Homo sapiens: one gene and its partners. The protein of the gene in region 4 purifies or fractionates together with the protein of the main gene of each other region. This does not show direct contact. Each region holds a gene or a part of one and is shown on either strand. Other genes may lie near its edges. The genes, in order: WDCP, PPP4R3B, VPS39, SPATA1, WNK2, FLYWCH2 and PCK1.

Region 1 (3,500 bases), on a different chromosome or scaffold from region 4:
GGCATGCACCACCACACTTGGCTAATTTTGTATTTTTAGTAGAGATGGGGTTTCTGCATGTTGGTCAGGCTGGGATCGAACTCCCAACCTCAGGTGATCCTCCCGTCTCAGCCTCCCAAAGTACTGGGATTATAGGCGTGAGTCACCACGCCCAGCCCTAAGCATATGCTTCTTTAGTGATTCAAATGCCTGGGGGAAAAATATTCAGGGTGAAAAAATGAAGATAATACTTGCCTAACCTACTTTACATTATTTTAAAAGATTATTGTAAGATAAAATGCAATAGGGAATGTGAAAATGTTCTGAAAATTATTAAGTGCTGTTGAATAAGATGAAGTAGAAGTAGAAATAGAAACAGTGATTTTTGAGTGTCATTTCAATAGAGGGATAAAAGCCACTTTGGAAGGATTTGAAATAAGTGCTAATAAAGTCAGAGATGTGCATATCAGTTATTCATTGATTTGGCAGTGAAAGGACGAATAGAAATTAGATGATGGAGGAGACTTTTCTTAAATTTTTAATTGGAAAATTTTCTAACTTAAAAGTTGAAAGTACCATAAATACTAACATAGCCTCAATCTAGACTCTACAATTATTAACATTTTGCTACATTTGTTTTCTTTCTGTGTGTCTATAGAAAATTTGGGTTTTTTTTGTCAAACCATTTGAAAGCACATTGTAGGCATCATGACATTTTACCCCAAGTGCTTCAACATGCTTATTTAAATAATAAGGACCTTGTCCTGCATAACCACAATACCATGTTCACACTTAAGAAAATTAATAACTCTGGCCGGGCGCGGGAGCTCATGCCTATAATCCCAGCACTTTGGGAGGCTGAGGTGGGTGGATTGCCTGAGGTCAGGAGTTTGAGACCAGCCTGGCCAACATAGTGAAACCCCGTCTCTACTAAAAATAAAAAAAAAATTAGCTGGGCCTGGTGGCAGGCACCTGTAATCCCAGCTACTCTGGAGGCTGAGGCAGAAGAATCGCTTGAACCCAGGAGGCAGAGGTTGAAGTGCGCCGAGATTGTGCCATTGCACTTCAGCCTGAGCAACAAGAGTGAGACTCCGTCTCAAAAAAAAAAAGAAGAAAAATAATAACTCTACAATATTTTCTGATATCCATTCCATACTCAGATTTCCCCAGTTCTAAAAATCTTCATTAGGTAGAAGATTTTATTTCTTCAAGATCCAAAGTATATACATTGCATTTGCCTGATAGCTCAGTAGTCTCTTAATTTATAATACTCCCCCTGTCCTTTTGTCTCTCCACATTATTAACCTGGGAAGGGGCTAAGCCGTTGTCTTACCAAATGTCCTACATTCTAGATTTGTCTAGATTTCTCATGGTGTAACTTTCCTTCTTAATCATTTCAGGTAACCTTTATCAAAAGGATGGAGTTGGGAAAAGGAAAACTACTCAGGACTGGACTGAATGCGTTGCATCAAGCAGTGCATCCGATCCATGGCCTTGCCTGGACCGATGGGAATCAAGTTGTCCTAACTGATTTGCGGCTTCACAGTGGAGAGGTCAAGTTTGGGGACTCCAAAGTCATTGGACAGTTTGAATGTGTCTGTGGGTTGTCCTGGGCCCCACCTGTTGCAGATGATACACCTGTTCTACTCGCTGTCCAGCATGAGAAGCATGTCACTGTGTGGCAGCTGTGTCCCAGCCCTATGGAGTCAAGCAAATGGCTGACGTCTCAGACTTGTGAGATTAGAGGATCACTACCTATCCTTCCCCAGGGCTGTGTGTGGCACCCAAAATGTGCTATTCTGACTGTGTTGACTGCTCAGGATGTCTCCATTTTCCCTAATGTTCACTCTGATGATTCCCAGGTAAAGGCAGACATCAACACCCAGGGCCGCATTCACTGTGCATGTTGGACCCAGGATGGCCTGAGGCTGGTGGTGGCAGTAGGCAGCAGCCTGCATTCTTATATTTGGGACAGCGCTCAGAAGACTCTTCACAGGTGCTCCTCCTGCCTGGTGTTTGATGTGGACAGCCACGTCTGCTCCATCACAGCAACTGTGGACTCACAGGTTGCTATAGCTACTGAGCTTCCATTGGATAAGATCTGTGGCTTAAATGCATCTGAAACCTTTAATATCCCACCTAACAGTAAAGACATGACTCCGTATGCTTTACCAGTTATTGGTGAAGTACGCTCTATGGATAAAGAGGCAACTGATTCTGAAACAAATTCTGAAGTATCAGTTTCTTCTTCCTATTTAGAACCTCTGGATCTAACTCACATACATTTCAATCAACATAAGTCTGAGGGTAATTCTCTTATTTGTCTAAGAAAAAAGGACTACTTGACAGGAACTGGCCAAGATTCTTCACATTTGGTCCTTGTGACCTTTAAGAAGGCAGTTACCATGACGAGAAAAGTCACTATTCCAGGCATTCTGGTTCCTGATCTGATAGCATTTAATCTTAAAGCCCACGTAGTGGCAGTGGCTTCCAACACTTGTAATATAATTTTGATCTACTCTGTCATTCCATCTTCAGTCCCAAACATCCAGCAAATTCGATTAGAGAACACTGAAAGACCAAAAGGGATATGTTTCTTGACAGACCAACTATTACTAATTTTGGTAGGAAAACAAAAACTCACTGATACAACATTTCTTCCTTCTTCAAAGTCTGATCAGTATGCCATTAGCTTGATTGTTAGAGAAATAATGTTGGAAGAAGAACCTTCAATAACATCAGGTGAAAGCCAGACTACCTACTCTACTTTCAGTGCTCCGTTAAATAAAGCAAATAGAAAAAAGTTAATTGAAAGTCTTTCCCCAGATTTTTGTCACCAAAACAAAGGGCTGTTGCTGACAGTTAATACCAGTAGTCAGAATGGAAGGCCTGGAAGAACACTTATTAAAGAAATCCAGAGTCCTCTGTCTAGTATCTGTGATGGCTCCATAGCTCTAGATGCTGAGCCTGTTACCCAGCCAGCATCGCTGCCCAGACACAGCAGCACACCAGACCACACCAGCACACTGGAGCCTCCTCGTTTGCCTCAAAGAAAGAACTTACAAAGTGAAAAGGAAACTTATCAGCTGTCTAAGGAAGTGGAAATTTTATCTAGGAACCTGGTTGAAATGCAACGGTGTCTTTCTGAACTTACAAACCGTCTGCATAATGGGAAGAAATCCTCTTCAGTGTATCCACTCTCTCAAGATCTTCCTTATGTTCACATCATTTACCAGGTAAATTCTCCTTTGAGGAACTACCACTATACATAAAAGCTCCTGCAGCCGGTGAGTACTGCAAGAAACGTATTGATGAGGAAGATGGTGCTCTAACTGAGCTTCACTAAGCTGGGCATGTTATGTTACAGGCAAGTTGGTACACCTTTGCAGGTTGGTTGGTTTTTAGCCTGCCAACCAGATAGGCGCACATATCAGTCTGCATCATGATTTTATCAGGTGCATGACGTGGAAAAATAAATGTCTGCACTAATTCGGGCAATTTATATTTAGAAAAAAAATCAT
Region 2 (3,500 bases), on a different chromosome or scaffold from region 4:
GAAACAACCAGATCTCGTGAGAACTCACTATCACAAAAATAGCAAGGGGGTTTTCTGCCTCCATGATTCAGTCATCTCCTCCAACACCTGGGGATTACAATTCACAATGAGATTTGGGTGGGGACAAGAGCCAAACCATATCATTCCACCCCGGTCCCTCCCTAATTTCATGTCCTTTTTACATTTCAAAACCAATCATGCCTTCCCAACAGTCCCCCATAACTCATTCCAGCATTAACTCAAAAGTCCAAGTCCAAAGTCTCATATGAGACAAAGTAAATCCCTTCTGCCTGTGATCCTATAAAATAAAAAACAAGTTAGTTACCTCCAAGATACAACGGGGGTACAGACATTGGGTAAATGCTCCCATTCCAAATGGAAGAAATTGGCCAAAACAAAGGGGCTACAGGCCCTGGGCAAGTGCAAAGCCCAGCAGGGCAGTCTTTAAATCTTAAAGCTCCAAAATAATCTCCTTTGACTCCATGTTTCACATCCAGGGCATGCTGATACAACAGGTAGGCTCCCAGGGCCATGGCTGGCTTCGCCCCTATGGCTTTGCCAGGTACAGCCCCCATGGCTGCTTTCATGGGCTAGAGTTGAGTGCCTGTGGCTTTTCCAGGTGCATGGTGCAAGCTGTTGGTAGATCTACTGTTCTGGGGTCTGGAGGATGGTGGCCCTCTTCTCATGGCTCCACTAGGCAGTATCCCAGTGGGGACTCTATGTGGGGGCTCCAACCTCACATTTCCCTTCCGCACTGCCCTAGTAGAGGTTCTTCATAAGAGCTCTGCCCCTGCAGCAGATTTCTGCCTAGATATCCAGGCATTTCTATATGTCTTCTGAAATCTAGGTGGTTTGAGAATCAGAGGTTACCAAACCTCAGTTCTTGCCTCTACCCCACAGGCCCCGTGTCACATGGAAGCCACCAAGAGTTGGGGCTTGCACGCTCTAAAGCCATGGCCCAAGCTGTACCTTGGCTCCTTTTCGCCATGGCTGGAGCTGCAGCACCTGGGATGCAGGGTGTCCCAAGACTGCACAGAGCAGCAGGGCCCTGGGCCCAGCTCACAAAACCATTTTTCCCTCCTAGGCCTCTGGGCCTGTGAATTAACATTTGGCTCCTTGTTACTTATTCAGATTTCTGCAGCCAGCTTGAATTTCTCCCCAGAAAATGGGGTTTTCTTTTCTACTGCATGGTCAGGCTGCAAGTTTTCCAAACTTTATGCTCTGCTCCCTTTTAAATATAAATTCTAATTTCAGACCATCTCTTTCTTCATGCATATGAGCATACGCTTTTAGAAACCGCCAGAAGGCCTCTTTTTTTTTTTTTTTTTTTTTTTTTTTTTTTTTCTGAGATGGAGTCTCTCTCTGTTGCCCAGGCTGGAATGCAGTGGCATGATCTCAGCTCACTGCAACCTCTGCCTCCCAGGTTCAACTGATTGTCCTGCCTCAGCCTCCCAAGTAGCTGGGACTATAGGTGTGTGCCACCACGCCCAGCTAATTTTTGTATTTTTAGTAGAGACAGGGTTTCACCCTGTTGGCCAGGCTGGTCTCCAACTCCTGACTTCGTGATCCGCTTGTCTCAGCCTCCCAAAGTGCTGGTGTTACAGGCATGAGCCACTGTGCCCAGCCCAGGCCACCACTTGAATGCTTTGCTGCTTAGAAATTTCTTCCACCAGATATCCTAAATCATCTCTCTCAAGTTCAAGTTCCACAGATCTCTAGGGCAGGGGCAAAATGCCGCCAGTCTCTTTGCTAAAGCATACCAAGTATGACCTTTACTCCAGTTCCGAATAAGTTCCTCACCTCCATCTGAGACCTCCTCAGCCTGGACTTCATTGTCCATATCACTGTTAGCATTTTGGTCAAAACCAGTCAACAAGTCTTTAGGAAGTTCCAGACTTTCCCATATCTTCCTGTCTTTTTCTAAGCCCTCCAAATTGTTCCAACCTCTGTCTATTACCCAGTTCCAAAGTCGCTTCCACATTTTCAGGTATCTTTTTTTTTGAGATGGAGTCTTATTCTGTCATCCATGCTGGTGGGCAGTGGCACAATCTCAGCTCACTGCATCCTCTGCCTCCAGGGTTCAAGCAATTCTCCTGCCTCAGCCACCAGAGCAGCTGGGATTATAGGTGTGCACCACCACCCCCAGCTAATTTTTGTATTTTTAATAGAGAATAGGTTTCATCATGTTGGCCAGGCTGATCTTGAACTCCTGACCTCAAGTGATCCACCCTCCTCAGCCACCCAAAGTGCTGGGATTACAGGCGTGAGCCACTGCGCCCTGCCATTTTCAGGTATCTTTATAGCAGTACCACATTCCTGTTACCAATTTTCTGTATAGTTCGTTTTCACACTGCTCTAAAGAACTACCTGAGACTGTAATTTATGAAGAAAAGAGGTATAATTGACTTAAAATTCCACATAGCTGGGGAGGCCTCAGGAAACTTGTGGCGGAAGGTGAATGGGAAACAAGGCATGTGTTACATGGCAGCAGGAGAGAGAGAGCAAGGGGGGAAGTGCCACCCTTTGGAACAACCAGATCTCGTGAGAACTCACTATCACAAGAACAGCAAGGGCGAAATCCACCCCCATGATCCAGTCACCTCTCACCAGGTCCCTCCCCTGACATGTGGGGATTACAATTTGATTTGCGATTTGGGTGGGGACACAGAGCCAGACCATATCATCACTGTACACATCATGTTCTTTTTCAAAAGTTCTTAGGAAACAAAGGCAATTAATTTTGGTGTTATTTTTTTTTGTTTTTTTGGTTTTTTTTGAGACGGAGTTTCGCTCTTGTTGCCCAGGCTGGAGTGCAGTGGTGCGATCTCGGCTCACCACAACCTCTGCCTCCCAGGTTCAAGTGATTCTCCTGCCTCAGCCTCCCAAGTAGCTAAGATTATAGACATGCGCCACCACACCCGGCTAATTTTGTATTTTTAGCAGAGACGGGGTTTCTCCATGTTGGTCAGGCTGGTCTTGAACTCCGGCCTTGGGTGATCTGCCTGCCTCAGCCTCCCAAAGTGTTGGGATTACAGGCGTGAGCCACCATGCCCGGGCAGCAATGTTTTATAAGTTTTTTAATTACTGCTGTTTTTAGATGTTTTGACTTAGCAGTATTTATTGATATACGTTCAAAATTTTACTTTTGCTTTAGCAAAAGAAAGTGAAGACAAGGAAAACCTTCCCAAAAGGACATCTCCTGGTGGCTTCAAATTTACTTTCTCCCACTCTGCCAGTGCTGCTAATGGAACAAACAGTAAATCTGTAGTGGCTCAGATACCACCAGCAACTTCTAATGGATCCTCTTCCAAAACCACAAACTTGCCTACGTCAGTAACAGCCACCAAGGTAGGTGAAACAGCATTACACACAAACTTTGCTTTTCCCGTCTGTGAGATTTTTTCATGTTTACTGAAAAAAATTTGGATAATCAAAACAATTTCAATGAATTGTTTAGAATTTTTCTGTTACCAAAATGTTGATTGTAGAATTTTATTTTA
Region 3 (3,500 bases), on a different chromosome or scaffold from region 4:
AAGGTCACTCATTCCTTTCATAAACTCTCTTGATTCTTGACCTCTGTAAAATAAAATCTTGGATAATGGTACAAATAGATAACTTTTATTGAGCATGTATTGTGTTCCAGGAAATGCTAAACGCATCTGTTATTTCACTAATCCTCACAACTATCCCTTGAAGTAAGTCCTTTTTTCAAATCCCCATTTTATAGATGAGGAAGTTGAGGCCTAGGGAATATATAACTTTTCCAGAGTCACACATGTGGCAAGCAGCAGAGTTGGGATCCCAACCCCAATTTGTCTTGATTCCCAACCACATGCTGTGATGTACTTACTAAGGCACCCATGTCAAAAAAAATGGGTGTCAGCCAAAGGTTGTCTGAATGGCAGTAGTTATATTTATAAAAACAGGTCAGCACCTACATTCCTTATCCAAAGGATCAATAGTATTTCTCCAGGATGATGTTCTTAGTCATCCAGAAAAACAGAGTGATTCTATTTTCTTTGATTTGGGGTCTTAAAGGAAAGGCAGGTCACACACAAAAAAAATGTTGAAATCAGAAATAACAGCAGCTCTAATGAAGGCTGGAGATTTATGCTGCAGCAGAACATGAAAAAATAAAAGAATTCATTTTGCAATATTTGTTTTGTAAAAGATACTATATTTAGAACTTTATAGATATCATGATATCAAGCAATTTAGCAATATTAAAGTTGATTTTTAGGCCACCCACTGATATTTCAGATATAAATAAAATGAAGTGGAAATTTTTTAAAAATCCACTCATAACATACATAAAAATCTACAACCAAAACAAAAGGCCAACATAATGTTCATCATCTTCCCCATCCTTCTCTCTCCACTCTGTCCCCCAAATCCCTGCCAGTTCCTGCTTTTCTTTATCTTTTTTAATAGCCTCAGCTTCCTCCCAAGTCGGCCAGGGTCTATCAATTCTACCTGTAATGGTACCTCATGACAGCCTCCTCCTATAGAGTCTCTCTGGGGACCCCTGTGACACCTTCAACTGGTCTCATTCACTCCATGCATTCTCTCGCATTTGCTGTCAGTTATCTTAGAGCAGATCTCTGATGCTGTCACACTGGGGCTTAAAAAATCCTGTGAAGCTACACTACCAAAATATGAAGTCAAATTCCTAAACATGACATTCAAGAGTCTATTTTCCATTTTTATTGAAATGTTTCTTGCCAATAGATTTTTTAATTTACTTTTTTTTTTTCTTGTGAACCCAAACTAAGACATGACAAAACATTTTAAAAAGTCAAATGTCTAGGGGCCGGGCACGGAGGCCGAAGTGGGCGAATCACTGGAGGTCAGGAGTTTGAGACTAGCCTGGCCAACATGGTGAAACCCCGTCTCTACTAAAAAATATAAAAATTAGGCCGAGTGTGGTTGGCTCATGCCTGTAATCCCAGCACTTTGGAAGGCCAAGGCGGGCAGATCACCTGAGGTCAGGAGTTCAAGACCAGTCTGGCCAACACAGTGGAAACCCATCTCTACTAAAAATACAAAAAAAATTAGCCAGGCATGGTGGTGTGTGTGCCTGTAATCCCAGCTACTCAGGAGACTGAGGCAAGAGAACTGCATGAACCCCGGAGGGAGAGGCTGCAGTGAGCTGAGATCGTACCACTGCACTCCAGCCTGGGTGACGGGGCAGGACTCTGTCTCAAAAAAAAAAAAAAAATTAGCCAGGTGTGCTGGTGAGCACCTGTAATCCCAGGTACTAGGGAGGCTGAGACAGGAGAACCACTTGAACACTGGCGGCGGAGGTTGCAGTGAGTGGAGATTGTGCGCCATTGCACTCCAGCCTGGGTGACAAGTGTGAAATTCTGCCTCCAAAAAAAAAATTAATTAAAAAAATAAAATGTCTATTCTACTGGTCATAAAAGGGAATCAATCCGATGGATTAAATTCTCTGTAAACTTTTAAATCAACCTGATTGATTACATGTGCCATTAGCCAGAGGACCTGTCCCATGTTGGGTCCTCCACTCTCTAGGACACGTTATTTAACAAAGCTGTGCATGCACAACACAGAGGATGACAAGCCTGCAGAGCACGCGCAGCATGGGATGGACAGTGCCTTCTGAGACTCAATACAGTAACACACAACAGAAAGTGAGACATACTAAGCAAACACAAAACGCACACATAAGCAAAGCAGTATCAGCCCTAAAAAACTCCTGACGGCCTAACCCTGAGCCACAAGGTTGGACTTAATTCCTCCTGAGAAGGAGGGCTAGGCCCTATTGCTCATAATTACCCTAATGGAGCTCCTTCCAACAGTGCAATGCAGTCCAACTTCATGTAATAAATTCCATTTCTGGCCCAATGCTGGCCACTGCAGGGACCACAAAGATAAGTAAGATAGTAGTCACTTCCCTTCGTTGGGTAACATGGCAAATAACAGTACTTCTCATCTGGGCATAAGCCCCCAATTAGCTGCATTAGAATCACCTGGACTTATTAAAAATGCACATTCCTGGGCCCTGCACATGGAGATTCAGATTCAATGGCTTTGAAGTGGTACCCTGAAATTTACATTTTAAAATTTAATCTTGTTGGCTGGGCAAAGTGGCTCACGCCTGTAATCCCAGCACTTTGGGAGGCCGAGGTGGGCGGATCACCTCAGGTCAGGCGTTTGAGACCAGCCTGGCCAACATGACGAAACCCCGTCTCTACTAAAACTACAAAAATAAGCCAGGTATGGTGGTGGGTGGCAGTAATCCTAACTACTCGGGAGGCTGAGGCACGACAGTGGCTTGTACCTGGGAGGCAGAGGTTGCAGTGAGCTGAGATTGCACCACTGCACTTCAGCCTGGGCGACAGAGCGAGACTCAGTCTCAAAAAATAATAATGAAATAAAATAAAATAAAATAAAATTAAATTAAATTTTATTTGTTTTTATGAAACATTCATGTAGTTCCAAAGCTAAAACGACGAAAAGTCTAGTTTCTATCATTGTCCATTTTATCCTCTCTTCTCCCTTCTGCTATGGGCATCATTTTAGTAATTTTTGACTTATCTTTCCATTGTTTCTCTGGAAAATATAGGTATGTATGTATATATAGACATACAGATACTCATATATACATGTGAAGTCTGCATTTTTTACAGGCTTTGAATATACATTCAAGTTTGAGAACCAGGCTCTAGAAGCAGACATGATTTACAGGACATGTGACCTTGGAAAAATTTCTTAAATTTTCTAAGCCTTAGGTCTTTCTTCTGTAAAATGGAGTCTTATTTTATAAAAGCCTAATACAGATTAGCATTTAACAACTGCAAGCTATTACTATTCATATTAACATTATTCATTAAATATATATTTAATGAATACCCATTGAGTCAGGAAATGTTTTAGGTACTGCAGATATAGCAATGCAGAAAACAAAGATACTGCCCTGAGGGAACTTATATTCTAATGTGGAGTGAGAGAGGCAATAATAATTAAATATATAAAATAACAGTAGATGGTGACCCATGATTAGAAGATAAGG
Region 4 (3,500 bases):
TTCACGCCATTCTCCTGCCTCAGCCTCCCAAGTAGCTGGGACTACAGGCGCCCGCCACTACGCCCGGCTAATTTTTTTTGTATTTTTAGTAGAGACGGGGTTTCACCGTTTTAGCCGGGATGGTCTCGATCTCCTGACCTCGTGATCCGCCCGCCTCAGCCTCCCAAAGTGCTGGGATTACAGGCGTGAGCCACCGCGCCCGGCCACTTTTTTTTAATTAAAAAAAAAAAAGAGGCCAAGTGCAGTGGCTCACACCTGTAATCCCAGCATTTTGGGAGGCCAAGGTGGGAGAATCACTTGAGGCCAGGAGTTCAAGACCAGCCTGGGCAATATAGAAAGACCCCGTCTCTACAAAAAGTAAAAAAATCAGCCTGGCATGATGGCACACGCCTATGGTCCTAGCTACTTGGTAGGCTGAGGCAGGAGGATTGCTTGAGCCCAAGAGGTCAAGGCTGCAGTGAGCCATGATTGTGCCACTGCACTCCATCCTGGGTGACAGAGCAAAACCTCGTCTAAAAAAAAAGAAGAATGTGTTCCTGCATTTTCACATTCATTAAGGAAAAAACAAGCCACAGATTACTAAGGTCAGGATTACAAAGAAACAGTATATGGTAGTATATACTGTCCTAAGATTCTATGTTACATATTTTTAAATTACAGGCATACCTCATTTTATTGTACTTTGCTTTATTGTGCTTTGCAGACATTAAATTTTTTGCAAATTGAAGGTTTATGGCAACTCTATTGAACAAGTCTACTGGTGCCATTTTTCCAACAGCAAGTGCTCATTTTGTGTCTGTGTCACATTTTGGCAATTCTTAAAATATTCCAAACTTTTTCATTATTATTATTATATCTGTTATGATGATCTGCAATCAGTGGTCTTTGATGCTACTATTGTAATTGTTTGTGGGCACCATGAACTGCCCATATAAGACTTAATAACAATATTTGGCTAGGCGCGGTAGCTCACGCCTGTAATGCCAACACTTTGGAAGGCCGAGATGGGAGGATCACTTGAAGTCAGGAGTTTCAAACCAGCCTGGCCAACATGGTGAAACCACATCTCTACTAAAAATACAAAAAATTAGCCGGGCATGGTAGGGCATCCCTATAACCCCAGATATTTGGGAGGCTAAGGCACGAGACTCACTTACACCTAGGAGGCAGAGGTTGCAGTGAACTGAGATTGTGCCACTGCACTCCAGCCTGGGTGACGGAGCGATACTCCATCTCAGAAAAAAAAGACTTAATAACGATATTGAAATTAGACTAATAACCTTACAATGGGAATTTTGCAATGAATAAAAAAGAGGAAGAAAATAGTTATAATTAGATTGTTTTCTGAAGTGACATTAAATGGCCTTCAAGGCTCACCAAAATGTTTCCTGAATTCTAAGAGCTTAAACAATGTGTTGGCCAGGTGCAGTGGCCCATGCGTGTAATCCCAGGCCTTTGGGAGGCCAAGGTAGGCGGATCACTTGAGGTCAGGAGTTTGAGACCAGACTGGCCTACATAGTGAAACCCCATCTCTACTAAAAATATAAAAATTAGCCCGGCATAGTGGCGGGCACCTGTAATCCCACCTATGGGGGAAGCTGAGGAGTAGAATTGCTTGAACCCAGGAGGCAGAGGGTGCAGTGAACCCAGAGGGCGCCACTGCACTACAGCCTGGGCGACAGAGCAAGACTCTGTCTCAAAAAAAAAAAAAAAAAGAAAGAAAGAAAGAAAGAAAGAAAGAAAGAAAGGAAAGAAAGAAAGAAAGAGAAACTAGAATCCCTCTTCCCTAAAATGGGTCATAGAAACTAGAGCCTCTTTTCCCCAAAACCAGCCATAAAGTCTAAAAATGTTACTCTAACCTTTCCCACCACCACCTTTCTGTGTAATAGCTGGCCATAAAGAAATTAAGACCCTCATTCCAGAGAGGTCCTACCCCATACCCATGAGAAGAAATCCTTCACAGAGAGGCCAAGAAAAATCTGAACAGACAGTCCTTGCTGAGTTTTCCCACTCAGTCTGTTTGCATTAGCTCATGCCCTTTATTCTGATCACAGTTCTACATAGCTGTCCATACTTCGTTGAACCTAAGCACAAAAATGGACAGTTTTTCCTGTATCTTTGGGTTTTCATTCTGAAACCTCCCATGTCGGGTAAAATTATGATCAAACACATTTTAAAAGGCAGAGACCCCTTTCTTCAAATAAATCTTATATTGGAAGAAGATGATGCCATTTAAGACTTTGCTAGCTAGACAGGAGAAGTCAATACCTGGCTTTAAAGCTCAAAGTACAGGCTGATTCTCTTGTTAGGGACTAATGAGGGTGGTAACTTTAAGTTGAAGCCAGTGTTCATTTACCATTCCAAAAATCCTATGGCACTTAAGAATTATGCTAAATTGACTCTGCCTGTGATCTATAAATGGAATAACAAAGCCTGGCTCACAGCACATCTGTTTACTGAATATCTTAAGCCCACTGCTGAGATGTACTAAGAAAAAAAAGAGATTTCTTTCAAAATATTACTGCTCATTGACAATGCACTTGGTCACCCAAGAGCTCTGATGGAGAACACAAGATGAATGTTATTTTCATGCCTGCTAACACAACATCCATTCTGCAGCCCATGGAACAAGGAGTAATTTCAACTTTTAACTCTTATTAATTAAGAAATAGATTTTGTAAGGCTGTAGCAGCCAAAGACAGTAACTCCTTTCATGGATCTGGCCAAAGTAAACTGAAAGCTTTTTGGAAAGGATTCACCATTCTAGATGCCATTAAGAACATTCATGATTCATGCATGGGAGGAGGTCAAAATATCAACATTAACAGGAGTTTGGAAGAAGTGGGTTACAACCCTCATGGATGACATTGAGGGGTTCAAGACTTCAGTGAAGGAAGTAACTGCAGAGGTAGTGGAAACAGCAAGAGAATTAGAATTGGAGGTGAATCCTAAATATGTGACTCAATTGCTACAATCTCGTGATAAAATTTGAATAGATGAGGAGCTACTTCTTATGAATACGCAAAGAAAGTAGTTTCTTGAGAATGGAATCTATTCCTGGTAAAATGCTGTGAACATTGTTCAAATAACAGCAAAGGATTTAGAATATTCTATAAACTTATTAATAAAGCAGCAGCAGAGTTTGATGGGGTTGACTCCAATTTTGAAAGAAGTTCTACTGTGGGTAAAATGCAATCAAATAGCATCACGTTTTACACAGAAATCTTTCGTGAAAGGAAGAGTCAATTGACGTGGCAAACTTCACTGTTGTCTTATTTTAAGAAATTGCCATAGCCACCCCAACCTTCAGCAACCACCACCCTGATCAGTCAGCAGCCATCAATGACAAGGCAAGACACTCTTCCAGCAAGCAGGTTATAACTTGATAAAGGCTCAGATGATCGTTATCATTTTTTTAGCAATAAAGTATTTTTAAATTAAGGTATGTACTTTTTTTAGACATAATGCTATTACACACTTAACAGACTACAGTATAGTAT
Region 5 (3,500 bases), on a different chromosome or scaffold from region 4:
TGGTTTGTCCATTCTTGTGGGTTTTCTGCATACACAGTCTTGTCATCTGCATGAGGCCAGTTCTCCTTCTCTCTGTCCAGTCTGTGCGGTTGACTCCTTTTCCTCCCCGCCTGGAGATCCCCGTGGTGTCGACTGGAAGCATGGAGGCACCTTGGGGAGGTATTGGGCATTTTGTCGTGGGCAGGGGCTCAGCTGTCGGTTCCATAGAGGACCTTCCAGATAAGGAGGCCCCTCCAGCCCCTGACTGCCGAGCTTGATTTCCAGGAAGGGTTGTGGAAGTCACCGAGTGCCCTCCATGCACCTGTGAAGAGTGCCCAGTGGGGCCCTCCCTGGAGTGGAGAGGAGTGACTCCCCGTGGCCAGCAGCCTTGCCTTCCTGGGGCACACCCCGCATACAGCTTCTCCCCGGGCTGGGACAGTGGAAGGGCTGCCTTGCCATCACCTCCCTGCACACTTGCTTTGCCCAGGTCCTGGGGCTCTGCTCCTGCCAGCTCCTGGGTGGTTCATGCTCCTGTGAGGGCACTGACCAGCCAAGCAGGAGGGCTTTGTGGTGGCTGAGTAGAGGCATGTGGGGTCACTCATGCGCCCTCAGGGTCCAGGCCCCACTAGTCCTCCTCCAAGTCCCATTTTGGCTGGTGGACACCCAGGTGTGTGGCCTAGAGGCTATCAGGCTGCAGCTTGGGGAAGCAAACAAGGGAGGGTGATGGTTCCTGGCCCCACACCATCATTCTGGTGTCAGCCCTGAGAGGGTGCCTGTCACAGCAGGTTCCAGGACTGCTGCCTCCTGAGGATGGAGAAACTGTGGCACCCTGGGGGCCACTAAGGGAGGCCAGCTGATTGCAGCCACGTGTACCTTCCTCTTCTCGTCTCTGTGTTTTGTAGATGACCGCACCTCGAGCAGGAGTGGGGATGCCACGTCTGCCCCCAGCGCCCGGCCCTCTGTCCACCACGGTCATTCCCGGAGCCGCCCCGACCCTGTCCGTGCCCACACCAGGTACTGCCCTCTCCAACCTCCCAACCCCACCCTGTGCGCTGCCTCTGGGTCAGTACAGAGGCCTGCTCCCAGCTCCAGTGTCCTGGGGGCCCTGGGCAGGCCAGGTGGGCCAGCTGGGGGCACAGGGCAGCTGGAACACCCCCCAGGTGCCCGTGCTGCCAGTCTTCTTGCAGCCACCTGTGGTCAGCATGCCTGGCCCCCGGCTGCGGATCACGTAGCCTTCTGCCCTGTCCCTTGCCAGATGGCGCCCTCGGAACCGCCCGGAGAAACCAGGTGTGGTTTGGCCTCCGAGTCCCCCCCACCGCCTGCTGTGGGCACAGCACTCAGCCGCGAGGGGGACAGCGGGTGGGCAGCAAGACTGCTTCCTTTGCGGCTTCAGACCCTGTTCGCTCCTAGGTTCCTGTGGTCCACGCGCCGTCTCCACACCCACTTCCTATACTTGAGTTGATGGTTAGAACCTTGTCGTCACCCTGCAGAAGTACAGTGCCTTGAATGCCAGCTTTTCCGTTCCCTGATGAAAAGATATGTTAAAAAAAATTATCGGAAAAGGTTTCATTTGCAATTGGCTTGTGCATTGATAATCTTTATTTACTGTTTTAAGTTGCAGAGATGTGAATGGTTTACAAATCTGAAGCTGAAGTTCAATCTTTGGTTTTCTGTTGTAAATGCCTTTTACAAACATTGAATTAGCTACCTTAAGTATTGAAGAGCTTCCATTGCTAGGTGAGCCCTGCTTTGTCCTCAGTAGAGTGCCGGTTCCCTGGGCTCATCCAGGGGCTGAGAGACGGCGGGACGCTGGGGCAGGGCACACTGGCGGAGCTGCTTGCTCAGTAGGGAATGTCAGTTGTTGCGCTGGGCCATGAGAAATCCGCCAGAAAACGTTAGGTGAGCAGACATGCCCCCCATGCCAGTGGGCTGCTGTGAGTGAGGATAAGGTGTGTGTTGGGCATAGAAACCCTGGCTGCCCGCCCACCCTGTGGAGACAAGTGCAGCTCCTCCAGCTGGAGAGGCTGCCCTCTCTCCTGCCCACTTCCCTCCCTTCTCCATGATTTCCATGGAGACCTGTGGCTCTGCTCACCCCTGGCATGCAGACCGCTCTCCCGTCCAGCCCTAAGCCTGCTCTGCGGAGGGCGGGGTCATTCTTCTCCTGGAGATTTCAGTGGGACTCGTCCCCAGTGGGCACAACACAGCCCTTGGTGGGAGGGGAAGGCCCCAGCCTCCTCCACCTCCCACTGGAAAGCAGACTGCTTGGGACTGCCCAGCTGTGAATTGTATAGTTTCTGTACTTATTAGAACTGGGTAAATTATTTTGGTTCAAATCTATTATTCCATCAATTCAGTTAGAATTGAATTTTCTAGGTGATTATGCAGAATCTTCTGCCAGGGCACGATGCTGTCGTAAGAGATTTCTGTTCTCTGTACTGGGCCCCCTTGCCCTGTTCCTTGAGTGAAGTGGGGGCTGCCCTCACCTGTCCCCCTTGCCTGTGAATCCCTTCCTTGTACATGGTGGTCAGTGGCACGGAATCCCCAATAGATTGTATATCTGAAGGAGAAAAATAAACACTTTTGCTCGAAAACAGTGTGAAACAACATCTTTTTCTTACCCTCTATCCATATAAAATCCAAAGCAACCAGCCTCCTAGGGAGCACAGGAGTTGGGAGCCAGTTCTGGGCTCAGCTGCATCCACACCTCTGGAGGAGGGTGCTGAGGGGCTGCGGGTGCTGGGCTGGGCTGTCCCCGGCAGGGGTCTGAGAGCAGGGCATCTGGCAGGGCTGCCTGGCCCCCAACACTGCCCCCGCCAGCTGTGGCCTGGGCCCCGAGCACGGTCAGCTCTGCTGGTCGGGTTAGCTGGCTGGGCTGCCCACCACTCTGCACCTGATTACACTTAGCAGTGCCACGGGCTGTGACCATGATGGAGGGAGCCAGCCTCCTGGTCAGCGAGACACACCTGCAGCCCCTGTCTCCAGGAGGCTTGGTTTGCATTACTTGCTGCAGCCCCTGGGGCCACCCTCTTTGCTCCAGATGGGCCGAGCTCAGGGGAAGTGGGAGCTCCTCAGATGAGCTTGGACTTGTTGAGAGGAGGACTTGGGGCTGGGGTTGCCCATGGATCATGCAAGGGGCAGTGGCTTTTCTGGTAGGCACAGGGGCCTTAGGGAAGGTGGCCATCCAGGGTGGGGCCTCATCCTGTGGGACTCAGCGCATGGTGGCAGCCAGCCCCCCAGCATCCCACTAAAGACAGCCTCGAGCTGACTGTGGTCCCTCCTGCGTGTGCATTGCAGGCCTCACTGTGAGCAAGCTGAGGGTCCCAGTGTCTCCTGCCCGGTCCACTGTGGGGGCTGCCTTGGCTGTGGGGCCACCTCCTCAGAGAGCTGCAGTGCCAGCCTTCGAGCTTCTGCATGGAGGGAGGAGGAACACTCATCCCAGAGCCTCCTGTTTTGGGTGTTGGAGGGCAGCTCACTCCCCAGATGCTCCAGACGGTACAGGAGCAGAGCGTCTGTTTGGGTTT
Region 6 (3,500 bases), on a different chromosome or scaffold from region 4:
TGCCTCTCGGACTTTTCTATAAAGCTAAAATAATTCCAAAATAAAAAGTTTTTTTTAAAGGTAAGTAGCTAGCTGCATTAATATGACCCAAAACATTAACTATTTTATCACAGAAAACCCAGCATAAGCAACTTTGCTCTTTTTCAGGTTGTTTTTTTTTTTTAATATAGTCTTTCCTAGTGCTTTTTCTTTAAAAGTAAAGGTTGGCCGGGCGCAGTGGCTCACGCCTCTAATCCCAGCACTTTGGGAGGCTGAGGCGGGTGGATCACAGGGTCAGGAGATTGAGACCATCCTGGCTAACACGGTGAAATGCCATCTCTACTAAAAATACAAAAAATTAGCCGGGCATGGTGGCAGGCGCCTGTAGTCCCAGCTACTCGGGAGGCTGAGGCAGGAGAATGGCGTGAACCTGGGAGGCAGAGCTTGCAGTGAGCCAAGATCGGGCCACTGTATTCCAAGCTGTGTGACAGAGCGAGACTCCGTCTCAAAAAAAAAAAAAAAAAAAGTAAAGGTTAGAAGAACAGATTGAAAAATGACTGTATACACATGTATACACACACACAAACAACAACAACAACAACAAAAAAACACCAAATTTTGAGCAAAATGGCCCTGACAAAGGTTGCCTGGTAGGAACTGTGTTTTATGAATCATTTTTATGCGTTCTGGAAAAACACAAGTGATACTTTTCTGAATATCAAATTTCAGTTAATCATAGTGTTTAATACCTCATTTTCAAAAATGACAAATATTTCTTTTCTACAATTAGTCCCATGCACACCTCCTAAGTAGTGCAATAATAAATTTGCTTCCATGACTTTTTAACTTAAAAAGTTACTTCTGCTCTTAAAAACCATGATATTTGCTCTAGCTCATGAAGCTGCAGAGAAATAATTCCACAGAATCTCAGAGAAGTGAAGGTTATGAAGATCTCCTCATACTCTCCATTTGGAGGACAAGGTAGCCAAGAAGAAGCCAGTCCTGGGACTTCCTCCAGGATAAGAGGCTTAGCTGGTCAAGCTGGTCAGCCCACAGGACTGGAGCACCTACTGGGCTTCAGGTTCCCCAAGAAGATCATGACATTGTTGAAAGAAATTAAAGAAGCCCTAAACAAATGGAAAGACATCCCATGTTCATGGATTGGAAGACTTGATATTGTTAAGATGACAACACTTCTGACATTGATCTATAGATTCTTAATTCCAGCTGGCTTTTTTTTTTTTTTTTTTTGGAGAAACTGACAAGCTGGTCCTAAAATTCATATGAAAATTCAAGGAACCCAGAATAGCAAAAACAATCTTGAAAAAAAAAAAACTTGCAGGACTGACACATCTCTATCTCAAAATATATTATCACAAAGCTACAGTAATCAATACAATGTGGTACTGGCATAAAGACCGACACAGGCCGGGCACAGTGGCTCATGCCTGTAATCCCAGCACTTTGGGAGGCCAAGGTGGGTGGATTGCCTGAACTCAGGAGTTTGAGACCAGCATAAGCAACATGGTGAAACCCCGTCTCTACTAAAAATACAAAAAATTAGCCGAGTGTGGCGGCATGCAACTATAGTCACAGCTACTCGGAAGGCTGAGGCAGGAGAATTGCTAGAACCCGGGAGGCGGAGGTTGCAGTGAGCCGAGATCACGCCACTACACTCCAGCCTGGGCAACAGAGCGAGACTCCACCTCTTAAAAAACAAACAAACAAACAAACAAAACACAGACACAGAGATCAACAGAATAGAACTGAGAGTCCAGAAATACACTCTTATATATATGGTGAACTGATTTTCAGCAAAGGTGGCAAGACAGTTCTGTGGAGGGAAAATAGTCTTAACGACAAATGTTGGGCCAGGCGTGGTGGCTCATGCTTGTAATTCCAGTACTTTGGGAGGGTGATGTAGGAGGATCGCTTGAACCCAGGAGTTCCAGACCAGCCTAGGCAACATAGTGAGATCTCATCTCTAAAAAAAATATTATTAACCAGGGTGGTGGGGCACATATGTAGTTCCAGCAACTTGGGAGGCTGAGGTGGGAGCGTTGCTTGAGCCTGGGAGGTCAAGGCTGCAGTAAGCTGTGATTGTGCTGCTGTACCTCAGCCTGGGTGACAGAGCAAGACTCTGTCTCAAAAAATAATAATAATAATAATAAAAACAAACATTAAATGCTAGGACCACTGAATATCCAATACAAAAGAATGAAGTTGTATGCTTTCCTCACAGCATATACAAAAATTAACTCTAAATAAATTATATGGCTAGGCATGGTGGCTCATGCCTATAAACCTAGCACTTTGGGAGGCTGAGGTGGGCAGATCTCTTCAGCTCGGGAGTTCAGGTCTAGCCTGGGCAACATGGCGAGACCTCATCTCTACTAAAAATACAAAAAAAAAAAAAAAAAAAGAAAGCCGGGCATGGTGGTGTGCACCCGTGGTCCCAGCTACTTGGGAAGCTGAGGTGGAAGGATTGCTTAAGCCAGTGGGGCGGAGGTTGCAGTGAGCCGAGATTGCACCACTGCACTCCAGCTTGGGTAACAGAGTGAGATCCTGTCTCAAAACAACAAAAAAACAAAAAATTATAGTTTATTACAAGAGCTACAGTAATAAAACTTTTTTTTAAAAGAAAAACTAAATTCTCATAACCTTAGATTAGGCAAAGCTTTCTTCAATATAATGAAAGGCACAAACAACCAATGAAGAAATAAACTGGACTTCAACTAAGTTTAAGAGTTTTGTGTTTTAGCCATAAAACTTTTGAAAGTTAAGAGATAACCCATAGAATGGGAAAAAATGTTTGCAAATCATATATCTGATAAGGGACTTGTATCTGGAATTTATAAAGAACTATTACAACTCAGTAATAAACAAGCAAACAAACAAACAATTTAAAAATGGGCGGCTGGGCATGGTGGCTCACACCTGTAATCCCAGCACTTTGGGAGGCCGAGGCAGGTGGATCATCTGAGGTCGGGAGTTCGAGACCAGCCTGACCAACATGGAGAAACCCTGTCTCTACTAAAAATACAAAATTAGCCAAGCTTGGTGGCACATGCCTGTAATCCCAGCTACTCAGGAGGCTGAGACAGGAGAATTGCTTGAACCCAGGAGGCGGAGGTTGCGGTAAGCTGAGATTGCACCAGTGCACTCCAGCCGGGACAACAAGAGCAAAATCCGCCTCAAAAAAAAAAAAAAAAAAAAAAAGGACAAAGGGGCAGGGCGTGGTGGCTCATGCCTGTAATCCCAGCACTTAGGGAGGCTGAGGCAGGAGGATCACCTGAGGTCAGGAGTTCGAGATCAGCCTAGACAACATAGTGAAACCCTGTCTCTACTAAAAATACAAAAATTATTTTCTTTTTTGGATTGGTGGCATGGTGGCACATGCCTGTAATCCCAGCTACTCAGGAGGCTGCGCAGCATGAGAATTGCTTGAACCCGGGAGGTGGAGATTTCAGTGAGCCGAGGTGGCGCCACTGCACTACACTGCACTGCAGCCTGGGCATCAA
Region 7 (2,256 bases), on a different chromosome or scaffold from region 4:
TACACCATTGTTCCTTACCTTTACATAATTGCAATATTTCCCCCTTACTACTTCTTGGAAAAAAATTACAAAATGAAGTTTTATAGAAAAGATGGATTTGCTTTGCTTGGTTTTTCTTATTTGAGCTACCAAGAGGAGAGAACTCTGATTAAATATCTTGTGATTTAAATCCTGCCCCCTCCCCAAGAAGGTGGGGACGTTCAGAATCACACTTGAAGAGGGGGTGCATTGCCTGGTCCCAGGGAGAAGGAGGGAGCAGATGGGGAGGAATGAGGCAGGGAACCATGGTTGGGGTTTTCTGAATTTGCTGAAGCCACTAGTTGGCATCCTTTAACAATTCTACAAACCTTTAGATGGTGAGGCTTATGTGGCAGGACTGGGAGGGTTTAATGCATGCTTTTTGACAGTTTGGATCTGGAGGGGTCTCAGGCTTCCACAAAAATTACATTGTGGACAGTTTCATAGGATTTTGCCTTTTAACTCTTCAAAGCAACAGTTTTCTCAACTGTCATCCCCGCGGGGGAGCAGAGGAAGACAAGTGAGAAGGAAAAGGGGACAGGATCTGGGTTGAGCAAGCATTAATTGAGCGCCTTCTGTATCCCGGACATCATGCCAACACCATGGGCTGCCCGAGAAGAGAGGTGGGTGGTTTGGTCCCCAGCTCTGCCTTGAACCCTCACCTGCTCTCCTCTACTCCCAGTGTTTATTGGATATTCCAGAACAGTCCAAACGAACCATAAACTTTATATCACAGATTCAATCTGTGTAAATACTATTATCTTCAAGTTGTAGTTTCTTTCTTGGGCCCAGGCTGTGAAATTGGCTTCACCCCTACCACACCCCAGCGGGCAGGCTTGTTCTTATGTCACACTCCACCCCTCCAGTCTCCTCAACTGGAAAACTTGCCTCTTTTCCTCACTTCCTCTGCTCCTTACAATGGCTTCATATGGAAGGTGAAGCTGAGATCACCCCAATTTTACAGGTGAGGAAACTGAGGTCAAGCTAGGAGCGTCCAGCGGGGCTGAGAAATTGCCAGGATTTCCTTCCCCATTAAGGAGCTGAGAGTCTTAGCTCCAGACACGTTGGCTTGTTAGAATATCAAAACCACCGAAGGGGAAAAACCACTTACTGGAATTAAATGCTATCTGCTGTATTAGTTTAAATCAGTGGCGTTCAAACTTGTTTCTCCTTTTCACTGCGGAACACGTTCTTGACATGTACTTGACTCAGAGTCCCATGTCTAAAGGAGACAGAGCCCAAGGCAGCCCACCTGAAGCTGGGGAGGGAGTCCAAAGTGCAAGCCACCTGGTCTCCATTTCCCCGCCCCTTGGGGGCCTTTGGGCAGCTCCTTGGACCCCTGAAAGAGGCCACCAGGATAAACTTTGTTAAAATGCATGCCTTGTGCCCCACTGTCCTATTACGGGCTTTCAGTAGTCTCCACTCCCTCGGCAGGCAAAGACACTGGCCATCTCCAAATTCCCTCCCCTCCTGCACAGCATCAGCCACCTGGCAAGCAGTCTCACATAGGACCATTTGCCAGCAGGCCCTGCAAGCCTGGGGGACAGCCTAGAGGAGGTGACTTACATACACAGCATAAGAGTTTTCAGGAGACCAAAAAGATTCAATATATGTCATTAACTCCTGACTCAGTTTCCCCAAACCATGCCTCCTGAGTGCTCCCTCTGTCTCCAAATCCTGATTTTTGTGCGCGGACCCCTGTCTACAATAAACAGGATCCTATGACTTCTTTCTTCAATGTTCTCTTGTCGTGCCTTCAGATGATGCAAAGTATGTAAGCTAAGCCCACTTGCAGGAAGCTCACAGAAGGCAAGAGGCTCATCACTTGAAAATACGGTTGGAGTGAGATGGAAAGCCCAGAGTCTCCTGATTCCTGGTCTACCACTGGACCACATGACTCCAAAACCAACACTGTGACTGACGTCCTCTACTGGAGTCCAGTGTAAGAGCTGTCCCCTGACCTCCAGGAAGCTGTGTTGCAGTCTGGGTTAAAGACCAGAAAACAATAGTTACACAGCAAATGTTGAACCAGGACAACAAACCTGCCCTTATTCCCAGTCGAGTCACTTAGGGGGCACTGACAGGTAGGCAGGCGGGGTGGCTAGGTGGGGCCGGGGCACACTTGGGAGTCAGGAGTTACAGGGCTCTTTCTCTTCTCTCCCTCTCCCTGGGGACCCACCCTAACCTGGACACCCCCGGGCTGCTCACTCGGCCCTCTGGATGCCAACAGCATGCACC

What was found.
Region 1: the proteins of SPATA1 (region 4) and WDCP purify together in Homo sapiens (affinity purification with mass spectrometry; 2 studies listed by BioGRID and IntAct, with this or other methods). This does not show direct contact.
Region 2: the proteins of SPATA1 (region 4) and PPP4R3B purify together in Homo sapiens (affinity purification with mass spectrometry; one large-scale study listed by BioGRID and IntAct). This does not show direct contact.
Region 3: the proteins of SPATA1 (region 4) and VPS39 purify together in Homo sapiens (affinity purification with mass spectrometry; one large-scale study listed by BioGRID and IntAct). This does not show direct contact.
Region 5: the proteins of SPATA1 (region 4) and WNK2 purify together in Homo sapiens (affinity purification with mass spectrometry; one large-scale study listed by BioGRID and IntAct). This does not show direct contact.
Region 6: the proteins of SPATA1 (region 4) and FLYWCH2 purify together in Homo sapiens (affinity purification with mass spectrometry; one large-scale study listed by BioGRID and IntAct). This does not show direct contact.
Region 7: the proteins of SPATA1 (region 4) and PCK1 purify together in Homo sapiens (affinity purification with mass spectrometry; one large-scale study listed by BioGRID and IntAct). This does not show direct contact.

The regions. Positions count from the first base shown.
Region 1 is NC_000002.12:24,037,392-24,040,891, reverse strand, and holds part of WDCP (WD repeat and coiled-coil-containing protein), read left to right. Parts: intron 1-1,379; 5' UTR 1,380-1,397; coding exon 1,398-3,215; intron 3,216-3,500.
Region 2 is NC_000002.12:55,558,623-55,562,122, reverse strand, and holds part of PPP4R3B (serine/threonine-protein phosphatase 4 regulatory subunit 3B), read left to right. Parts: intron 1-3,154; coding exon 3,155-3,348; intron 3,349-3,500. UniProt on the Homo sapiens protein: Regulatory subunit of serine/threonine-protein phosphatase 4 (PP4). May regulate the activity of PPP4C at centrosomal microtubule organizing centers.
Region 3 is NC_000015.10:42,201,805-42,205,304, forward strand, and holds part of VPS39 (vam6/Vps39-like protein), read right to left. Parts: intron 1-3,500. UniProt on the Homo sapiens protein: Regulator of TGF-beta/activin signaling, inhibiting SMAD3- and activating SMAD2-dependent transcription.
Region 4 is NC_000001.11:84,558,386-84,561,885, forward strand, and holds part of SPATA1 (spermatogenesis-associated protein 1), read left to right. Parts: intron 1-3,500.
Region 5 is NC_000009.12:93,316,639-93,320,138, forward strand, and holds part of WNK2 (serine/threonine-protein kinase WNK2), read left to right. Parts: intron 1-881; coding exon 882-993; intron 994-1,234; coding exon of another isoform or gene 1,235-1,436; exon of another isoform or gene 1,437-2,570; intron 2,571-3,500. UniProt on the Homo sapiens protein: Serine/threonine-protein kinase component of the WNK2-SPAK/OSR1 kinase cascade, which plays an important role in the regulation of electrolyte homeostasis, cell signaling, survival, and proliferation.
Region 6 is NC_000016.10:2,886,215-2,889,714, reverse strand, and holds part of FLYWCH2 (FLYWCH family member 2), read right to left. Parts: intron 1-3,500.
Region 7 is NC_000020.11:57,566,366-57,568,621, forward strand, and holds the end of PCK1 (phosphoenolpyruvate carboxykinase, cytosolic [GTP]), read left to right. Parts: 3' UTR 1-1,756; downstream 1,757-2,256. UniProt on the Homo sapiens protein: Cytosolic phosphoenolpyruvate carboxykinase that catalyzes the reversible decarboxylation and phosphorylation of oxaloacetate (OAA) and acts as the rate-limiting enzyme in gluconeogenesis.